Linked DNA regions of Homo sapiens. The protein of the gene in region 2 purifies or fractionates together with the protein of the main gene of each other region. This does not show direct contact. Each region holds a gene or a part of one and is shown on either strand. Other genes may lie near its edges. The genes, in order: ACTR3B and MSC.

Region 1 (4,571 bases), on a different chromosome or scaffold from region 2:
GCATTCAAGTATTTTGATATAAAAGGGTATGATCTCTGCAACTTACTCTCAAACAGTGCAGGAAAGTAATAATAATATGTATGGACATACAGAGAGTGACAAAGCAAATGTTAACAGTTGGTAAAACTGGAAGAAGAGTATACAGTAGTTTTTTGTTCTCTTCCAGCTTTCAGTAGATTTGAAATTATTTCAAAAAAAGTTGAAAAATGCAAAAGACTTCATTTGAAAAGTTTGGCTCAGAGAAGTGAGACCGGAGTTGTGAAATATTCTCTGAAAACTATGCAGCCTAGTCATCCCTTTAAATAGATGAAGCTTTATTTTTGGACTCAGCAGATCCCTTTGTCCATATTATCCTGGCCTCCAGCACATCACTGCTTACTCAGGTAGTCTCGGGGTTTACCTGAGGAGGATTCAAGGATACTGGGATGAAATTTATTTGTAAAAAATACTGTTTATCACACTGTCCAATAAATCATTAGTGCCCACTATGTATAGCTCAATGCTTTTACAATTTAGTACTACAAAAAAAGGCTTTTTTCACCCAAGAAACAGGTATTTCTCTTGATTTCTGATGACAGGAATTACATAACCATGACTCTTATGATGTTGTCAGACAGGAAGACTAAGGTCGAATGTGCGGACCAACTTCAGCAGCCACTGGGCTAAAGCTCAGGGTGACTTCCTAGGTCCGTTCTTTTCCTTTGGCTTGGTTATTTTTATCTGAATTTTACCACTTTTTGTCCTATTTTGAGGCAAAACTAAATCCAAAAATCATTTTGGCTCTCTGGGAAATGTAAGAACTACTGATGTGCTCAAGTTGGTAAATTCGGGCTCTTTCAGGCTCCTTCTGGCCATACACTCGATATGGGGAATTCATATGGAGATTCCCTGCCACCGTTTCTAAGTCTTGACACCAACTTCTGAAGCATGACTTTGGGCCACAAAACAATGATCTATAGAAGTTGAATCTCCAAGTTAGCCAAGTTACATTAATCACTTACCTCAAAAGGTCAAAACTGAGCACGACATTTTAGGTATTTATAGCAAGAAAGATGAGTAAGGTCCACGACTTACTAATCTTAAAGGTATGACAACTCTGTGAGCATTATTTTATTGCTACTACCAAGAATTCCTTTATATTTTAATAGTTCTGCAAGACTAAAACTACAAAGCAAAAATCTCACATGCAAATGTGGAAATGAAAAATACTTTCACCCACTGGTTTCACTCTTGACACAACCAGACCTGAGGGGACCTGAGGTGAACCCATTGGGGGAGGGCATGAGTTAAGGGTGTCAATAATTGAGGGAGGGGAGCTGTAGTATCGACAACGCTGATTTTGGCTTGTGTTTTAGGTAGAAAAGCAAGTTCTAAAATAAAGAGCTACAAAGCTTGATATGACGTGTATTTCAAAAAGAATTCACACAAGCAAAGAGGATTTTTCCAGTCCACAACCACTTCTGGTCGCTTCAGCAGCAAAAGGAAGGAACTAACAGTAGGAGATGGACTGTAGCAAACTAAAGAAGGCACCCCCACAAGGTTGTCAAGGAAACCAAACCAAGTGCATTTTTCTATAGAAAAGAATCAAGGGTAAGGTGAACATGCCATGTTACATTTTGTGGCAAAAATGATTAAAATCCCTTCTTGAAAAAAATCGCTAAGAGACCAAATTTACTTCCAGGCTATTTTACTAAGCACTACACCCATAACGCAGGCAGGCAAGCTTGTATTCCCAAACTACCAGCTACATGGATTCAGCAATCACCTTACTACAACCAGCTAACTTGGGTCACCGATACTTCAGGGCATTTCCTAAGATCTCTTTTTAATAGCTTAACGGCAACGAAAGAAGTGGTCACACTCAAAAAGTTAAAAACAAAAACCTCTACCACAATTCCACAAACATGCTCTCCCAAATTTAGGGTATTTTTCAAAATGGAGTCTTTTTAAACACATCATTTTTCAGCGAAAAGGCAAATCTATGCAAACCAAAGGGACAGCTTGGCCTGAGTGTGCCATTTCATACTGGAAAAGCGCAGGGAGGGCAGTAAAAATGGTATCAAGTTGGGAGATCGATGCTATTCTCTCCACAAGTAGGTGGTAAAGAATCCTCAGCCAGGAGGAATGACACGCACACGCGGGGACAGAACGAGGGCCAGTGCTGAGAACGCTGGAAGGCAGGGACACCGTTCACTAGGAGATGAGTGACGTTAAAGGATCTGCAGTGATGATCTGTGCCTCACGCTGGCGAATATTCCTAGGAGGGGAGATCCCGCGCTCCCGGTGTCCCTCAGGGTGTCCACCCCGGCGACGGCCGGAGCCGGGCTGCGGGTCCAGGGGCCCGGCCACGTGGGCGGGGGAGGCGAGGAGCGCCGGGCTCGCTCAGAGTGGGCACCGCGTCCCTACCCTCCGTGCTTTTCCTCTTGTGGCCCTTCCCGGCAGGGAAGAGGGGGTTTTACGACGTCAAGGCAAGGCTTGGAGGGAAGCGGCGGCCGGCGCCCCACCTGCCCAGGTGATCGCGGGGCTCAAGCCCGGGGCGACGGACGCAGCTCGACCTCCAGGCGAGGTGGACGCCAGGGGCCGGGAGCGGGGCCGCGGAGGAGCGGGGGTGGGCGCCGAGCTGCTCTTACCCGGTGCCACAGTCCACCACGCAGGGAGGCAGGGAGCCTGCCATGCTCGGGACGCGCGGCGCTCGGCCCCGCCGGCAGCCCGAGAGCGCCCCGTCGCCGTCCGCTCCGCCGCCCGCTAGCCCCGCGCGCAGCGTCTCCCGCGAGCCGCCGCAGCGCCGCTGCCGGGAGCCCGGATGCTCGGCGGCCGACACGTGACGTCACTCCCCGGTCGGCCAATCAGAACGCGCGCACGCCCCGCCTCCCCCAACACCCCCACCCCCACTCCGGCGCGCCATCTTTAGTGCTGGCAGCGAGGCTTCTTGGCCCCATACGTCCAACCTTGCTGCTGGAGAGATTGGGGTTTATTTTTAACTGACTTACATGAACGTGACCCCATTTCCGAGGCCTGGCGCCTTTCTCCTCCTGTAAGTCTTCGCTCGAATGTCACCTTGCGAGGGAAGTTGTTCCTGATCACCCTGACTATGTCCCCTACCGGTACTGTATCCTCTGTCTCAACAATCTGTTGGTTTCATTCCTAACCCTTAAAGCAAAGTGTTTATATTTTTATATTTATGTATTTGTTGTCTGCCTCCCCTACTGGACTATCAAATCTTCTAGGATAGGGCTTGAGTCTGTCTTAATCACTATTGATGAGCAGCAGGTGCTTAGCACAGTATTTGGTGTACCTGTGGAAGTGCCCAAATGTTTGTTGAATGACTGAGTAACCTTCCCCATATAATAAAAAAAAAAAAAAAAATTAGTTGGAATTGGCCGGGCGCGGTGGCTCACGCCTGTAATCCCAGCACTTTGGGAGGCTGAGGGTGGATCACAAGGTCAGGAGTTCCAGACCAGCCTGGCCAACATGGTGAAACCCCTTCTCTACTGAAAATACAAAAATTAGCCGGGCGTGGTGGCGGGTGCCTGTAATCCCAGCTGCTCCGGAGGCTGAGGCAGGAGAATCGCTTGAACCTGGGAGGCGGAGGTTGCAGTGAGCCAAGATCGCGCCATTGCACTCCAGCCTGGACAACAGGGCGAGAGTCTGTCTCAAAAAAACAACAAAAAAAATTAGTTGGAATTATTATACCTAACACGGCCTAAATTTTTCTAAGAAGAAAAATCTGCAAAACAAATGCTTGGCCAGCCTTAAGGAATGAATGGCCTTAGACTGAGTAAACCACACCAAGATCACTCCTGGAAAATGTTTTCAAGTGTCGAAGATGGGATGATCGCCCAAAAGTTCTTACTGAAACCAAAGAAGGCAAACACCACCTACTATATTATAAAGGTACTGAGAGTCCCACTTGCCACTTGCTTCCTGCTTCTTGCCCGATCGTAAATTCTTGATACTAATTTTTTAGGAGCTTTCTGGAAACATGTATTTTTTTGTTTTGTTTTGTTTTTTGAGATGAGTCTCACTCTGTCGCCCAGGCTGGAGTGCAGTGGCGCAATCTCGGCTCACTGCAACTCCGCCTCCCAGGTTCAAGCAATTCTCCTGCCTCAGCCTCCCAAGTAGCTGGGATTACAGGCACCCACTACCATGCCCGGTTAATTTTTTGTATTTTTAGTAGAGACAGGGTTTCATCATGCTGGCCAGACTGGTCTTGAGCTCCTGACCTCGTGATCTGCCTGCCTCAGCCTCCCAAAGTACTGGGATTACAGGCATGAGCCACCACGCCCAGCCAAGACATGTTGTTTTTACAGGTACTTAAAACATTGTGTTTTTTACCTAGAAGTAATAGATACGTTGACCACTCCTAGGTAACCCATCATCATTTCTTTTTTTTAACTCATAAGTACCCATTAAGGCCCAGACCTAGAGAATGTTCAGGAGAACTGAAGAGAGAAGCAAATGGGAGGAAAATAAAAAGGAGTAAGTGTGGAGGAATCCCAGTTTAGAAGCCCAAGGCTGGGGTTAAAGATTGGCTGGCTTGCTTTGTGTTTTGCCAAAGCCCTGCCTTGGTC
Region 2 (4,462 bases):
GATCAGCCCTTAAAAGTTAACTTCTACAGCCAAACCCTCTTAGTAAAGGGCAACAAAGACCACATCCTGACACCTCCAAGGGGCACACGGTTTTTACAGCGCGTTTTATTATTCATAAAAAAATAAATTTATTTACATATGTTATTTCCTGTGGTAGTGCAGCCTCGGGGCAAGGGCGCGTTCCCTATCGCAGGATCACTTGCTATGGTAAGCCGCCCACCCTGCGCGCTCCTCCGCGCGGGGAAGAACCTGCGCGGCAGGACGTGGTGTTGGAGTTGGGGCGCCCGGAGCGTGGAGTGGGGAGACCTGATGCAGAGAGTCTGGAGTCGGAGCTGGGGGTGCTGCAGGTAGGAGCAGGAGCGGGGCGGAGAGGGAGGCCCGAAGAAGACCCCACACAGGTTGGCGCAGCGGGGCTTGGGGAGGCTTCAGCCCAGAAGTGGAGAGGGTTGACAGACGCCTGCCTGATTAGAAAAAGCCGGGAGCTTGGGAAGGAGACGGGATTGAAGAAGCCACCCGGCAGGGAGGCCGAACGGCCCAGAGCTCTCCGGGTAAAACCCGCCTGCGGTGATCTGGGAAGTGTGTCTCCACCTAGCCCTGCGAGCAGCGGCCTTCCTCCCGCCCGTTAGAAGGGCGCTGTGCTGGAGTACGAACCCGGCCCAGAGAAGCCACTCGCCCTTCTTTGTCACTTAAAACCCTGTCCCGACGCGGATCTCACGTCTAGACCTCTGTCTTTAAAGCGGATGTAGAGCGCGTTCTAACCGTTCCCTAACCATTGTGTCACCGCGAAAGGCCGGGGCTGTGTGGAACCGTCCCGCACGTGTGCGATGAATCTGGCTCCGCTGAGAACGGATCCGTGGGCTGTCTGGCGCGGGCTGGGGCAGCAGCCGAGAGTTAGTCTACAGAGCTAGGGCCCGAGGGTGGACCTGCGTCCGCGTCTCGTCACGAAAGGAAGCTCTTTTTGGAGAGGCAAAACGTGGTCGCCCAGATCCGGCGCAGCTGTAGCCGTGGGCGCTGTGCAGTGACAGCCACACCCGCCACCTGTCACGATCACAGTTCCAGGGAAAGGGGAAGGGTCAAGGAGAATCCAGCGGAAACTTCTTCCCATCTCACGAGCTCTCCCTTCTCTCCGTGGCCCCCAAACACTCGCATTTAACGAATAATCCCATCAAGTGAGTTCCAGTCCGATTTAAGCGGTGGTTCCACATAGTCTGTTGGCTGCGGAAACTTCTTTGGTGTCAGAGTCCGGTCTTCCCGAGACCACGAATGGCCATGTCTGTAAATCAAAAAGAACGTGAGATATTAGAGAGAAACGATTGTCTCAAACCGAAACAGCTCTCCTACGCGAACCCCAGATATTCCTGACTTGGAGTAGCTAAGATTTTATCAGCATTCTGGGAATTTGCATGTCCTCTCTCTGAACTAAGATTTTCATTTTACTGGAGGTTGATAATCCGAGACTTGCCATATCCGTTCACGCTTCTTCCTGGACTTTGCCCGCAGGATAATTTGGTGAAACTCATCTGACTTTGAGGTTCTGTCGTTTAGTTCCCTTCCCCAACACACACACACACACACGCACACACACACACACACACACACACACACACAGTCATCCACTCCAAGCTCCAAGTAGGAACTGGGCTTGGACAGGATTTTTCCCAAGCCGGGAGAGCTGGCAGATCAGAGAGGGACTTTCCAGATAAATCCCATCTGGGGAAACGTTACTATCTTCCACAAGCAATTTTTCTAAAAATGCAAATGCTCTTTTATAGAGCTCGGCCTTCCCTCCTTTAAGAAAGGGCTTGCCGATTCAAACCTGCCCGACTCAGCTGGATTAAGTTGGGCAAGGGAGATTTGCCGTCAGTCTGCAACCTGGTGGCAGATGGAGATGGAACCAAGATTTACCCTGGAAGTAGGATATTAGTCAATGGCTGTCACTGGGGTACAATGTTCAGAACGATGCAAACAGACACGGAGGGTTGATTCTTCTTCAGGGAAATGGCTGGCCACTCCCTTGATTTGGGAGAAACTAAACTGGCCTTCTCGTTCCCAGTCCCAGAACCTCCACCCCTTTCGAATTCTTCCCAACGGGCTGACCCTGCCCGGCGCCCAGGAGCGCCCTGGGTATCTCCTGGCTGCTCTCCCGAATCCTTGCGCGCCGCGCCCCTACCAGGTTCACTGGGTGCACGTAGCCGTTCTCATAGCGGTCCTCCTGCAACAGCTGCCGCAGGTGAGCGATGTAACTGGAAGCCAGCCGGAGCGTGTCCAGCTTGGAGAGCTTAGTGTCGGGGGGCACCCAGGGCAGGCTGGTCTTGAGCCTGGAGAAGGCTTTGCTCAGCACGCGCATCCGGGCACGCTCACGGGCGTTGGCCGCGTTCCGCTGCGACTGCTTGCACTCTGCGGCTGAGCCCTTGGCCGGGAGGGGCTTCTTGCCACCACCGCCCGCGCTACCACCTGCGCCGCCGCCCCCAGCCACACGGGGCCGCTTCCTCTTGCAGCCTTCCGCGCTGCCGGCTGTGCCCAGAGCGCAGCGCTCCTCCTCGCCGTCGGGGTCCTCCTCCTCTGCCGACGAGTTGTCACTGGGCGAGGCGTAGCTGCGCTCTACGCCGCGGAGGGGCGGCCTCTTGGAGGCGGGGACCGGGTACTCCCGCTGCAGCCCCCGAAGCTCCATCTCCTCCGGATCACTCACCGAGCCCGTGGACATCCCGTTGTCCCCCTTGCCCACACGCGTCCTCTTTCCTCCCCCCTGGCCAGTCTCGCTGTCTCCGCCTTCCGCTCCCTGGCGGAGGCGGAGGCCAGAGAGCGCTCCAAGGAAGACTAAAAACCCAGGCCGGGAAGCGCGGGGTGAGAAAGCGAGGTGGGTGGCGAGAGCGTGAGCGCCCCTCTGCTGACCCCGGGGAGCGTGGACTACGAGTTGGCGCCCAAGTCCAGAATCCGCGCGCACCGCGGTAAGCTGCGCCTTTTGAAAAGGCTATCTGTACTCCTTGGAACAAACCACCCCGGGCAAAGAAGAGGGGGTTGTAAAGGGGGCCAAGAGGTGGGGCAGGGGCGTGGAAGGGGTGGGGACCGCTTTTCTGCATGCCGAAGAGCGGTTGGTGGAGGCGGGGGAAGGGGACGTCTCTGCAGAGCCGAGATTTGGGCTCTGAAGCCCGACGGCCCTTCAACATGTCTGCGCAGGATAAGTGAGCTTTCGGGGAGTGAAGGGGCACATCTTGTTCCTACCGACGGTGCTTCTACCCCCAGGTAATCTTAGCAGTGGCAAAGATTACCAGACACTTAGAAACGACGGGATTCCGACCTCTGCTTGCCTGCCAGTCTTTCCAGTAGAACTCAGTTTTCAAGTTAACCATTCATGATGTATGATTGTCTACCCAAGCCTTGCTGGACAAGAGAAAAAGCAGAACAGGCAAACAACATCCAACAATGCACAAGTTACCTCTCATTTTCCTCCTCCTTTTCTTATAATATACCTTCATGGTTTACAAAAATGGTTACAATGGTTCGTTGCCTTTTCAAATAACATCTGTAACTTAATGATATTATCTCCAATTTGCAGAACTTGAAGCTGAGCCGCCTAGATAGACGTTAAGTAAAAGACCCAAACTTATTAGGCTAAGTAGAAAAAAAGATTCAAAATCCGCGTTTTGAAATTCTGGCCCGTCGGTATTCTAGTCAGCTCCGTGCCTCCGGGTCACACATCACTGGATGTTGTAGCTGGTATTTTCCACTATCTTGAGAGTTCCATGCGTGATGTGATTTTGTTTTAATACCACAATGCGTGTGTTGGAGGATCCGGCCCTAAAGCTTTGCATTATAATGTAGGGAATCCTTGCTATTGTATTTAATAGATTGTGTATTGAAGAGCGAGCTCCTGGAAGCAGAATGCTAAGTTAGCACAATCGTCCATTCAAAGTAAAAACGACAAAGGAGCACCCTGAATGATCATGTTCCATTCCAAACAAGACTAAAACATCCTGCTCTTCCACACAAGAAAACACAACAATTTTGCAGTCTCATTATTTCCTAACTCGAAGGTCATCGCAGTTCCTGGTCAGGGGATAAGTACGTCTGTGGATACGGGCCCCAGTGGTCAGAGACTGAGTGCCCGCTGTGTGCCCGTCACTGTACTCGCGGCTTGTGAGCAGCTCACTGAGTAATAAAACCCGTATGAGTTTGGCATATGGTTACCCCATTTTACAATGATGAAACTGAGTCGTCACACAGGCTTAGGTGTTCACTTGTTCTTTTCCTGAAAGTCCACAGGCTCCCAAGCTGAGCAAGGTGCAAGGGGACCTATGTGGAGTCAGTCCAGGACAGAGCTGGCAGAGATAGCTGGGCCAGCCTGGCTCCCGCCAGTTCGTACAGCAGAACAAATGCGTCCAGCTCGATGGCTGAAGTGCTGCAACAGGTGGCTGGCAGAGGCTGACTTCATCACTCAGGCATCATTCCACCTTAGTCTCCC

The links.
Region 1: the proteins of MSC (region 2) and ACTR3B purify together in Homo sapiens (affinity purification with mass spectrometry; one large-scale study listed by BioGRID and IntAct). This does not show direct contact.

Annotation. Positions count from the first base shown.
Region 1 is NC_000007.14:152,757,986-152,762,556, reverse strand, and holds the start of ACTR3B (actin-related protein 3B), read right to left. Parts: upstream 2,806-4,571; 5' UTR 2,675-2,805; coding exon 2,631-2,674; exon of another isoform or gene 2,505-2,630; intron 1-2,504. UniProt on the Homo sapiens protein: Plays a role in the organization of the actin cytoskeleton.
Region 2 is NC_000008.11:71,841,475-71,845,936, forward strand, and holds MSC (musculin), read right to left. Parts: upstream 2,939-4,462; 5' UTR 2,705-2,938; coding exon 2,171-2,704; exon of another isoform or gene 1,649-2,170; intron 1,274-1,648; coding exon 1,187-1,273; 3' UTR 86-1,186; downstream 1-85. UniProt on the Homo sapiens protein: Transcription repressor capable of inhibiting the transactivation capability of TCF3/E47. May play a role in regulating antigen-dependent B-cell differentiation.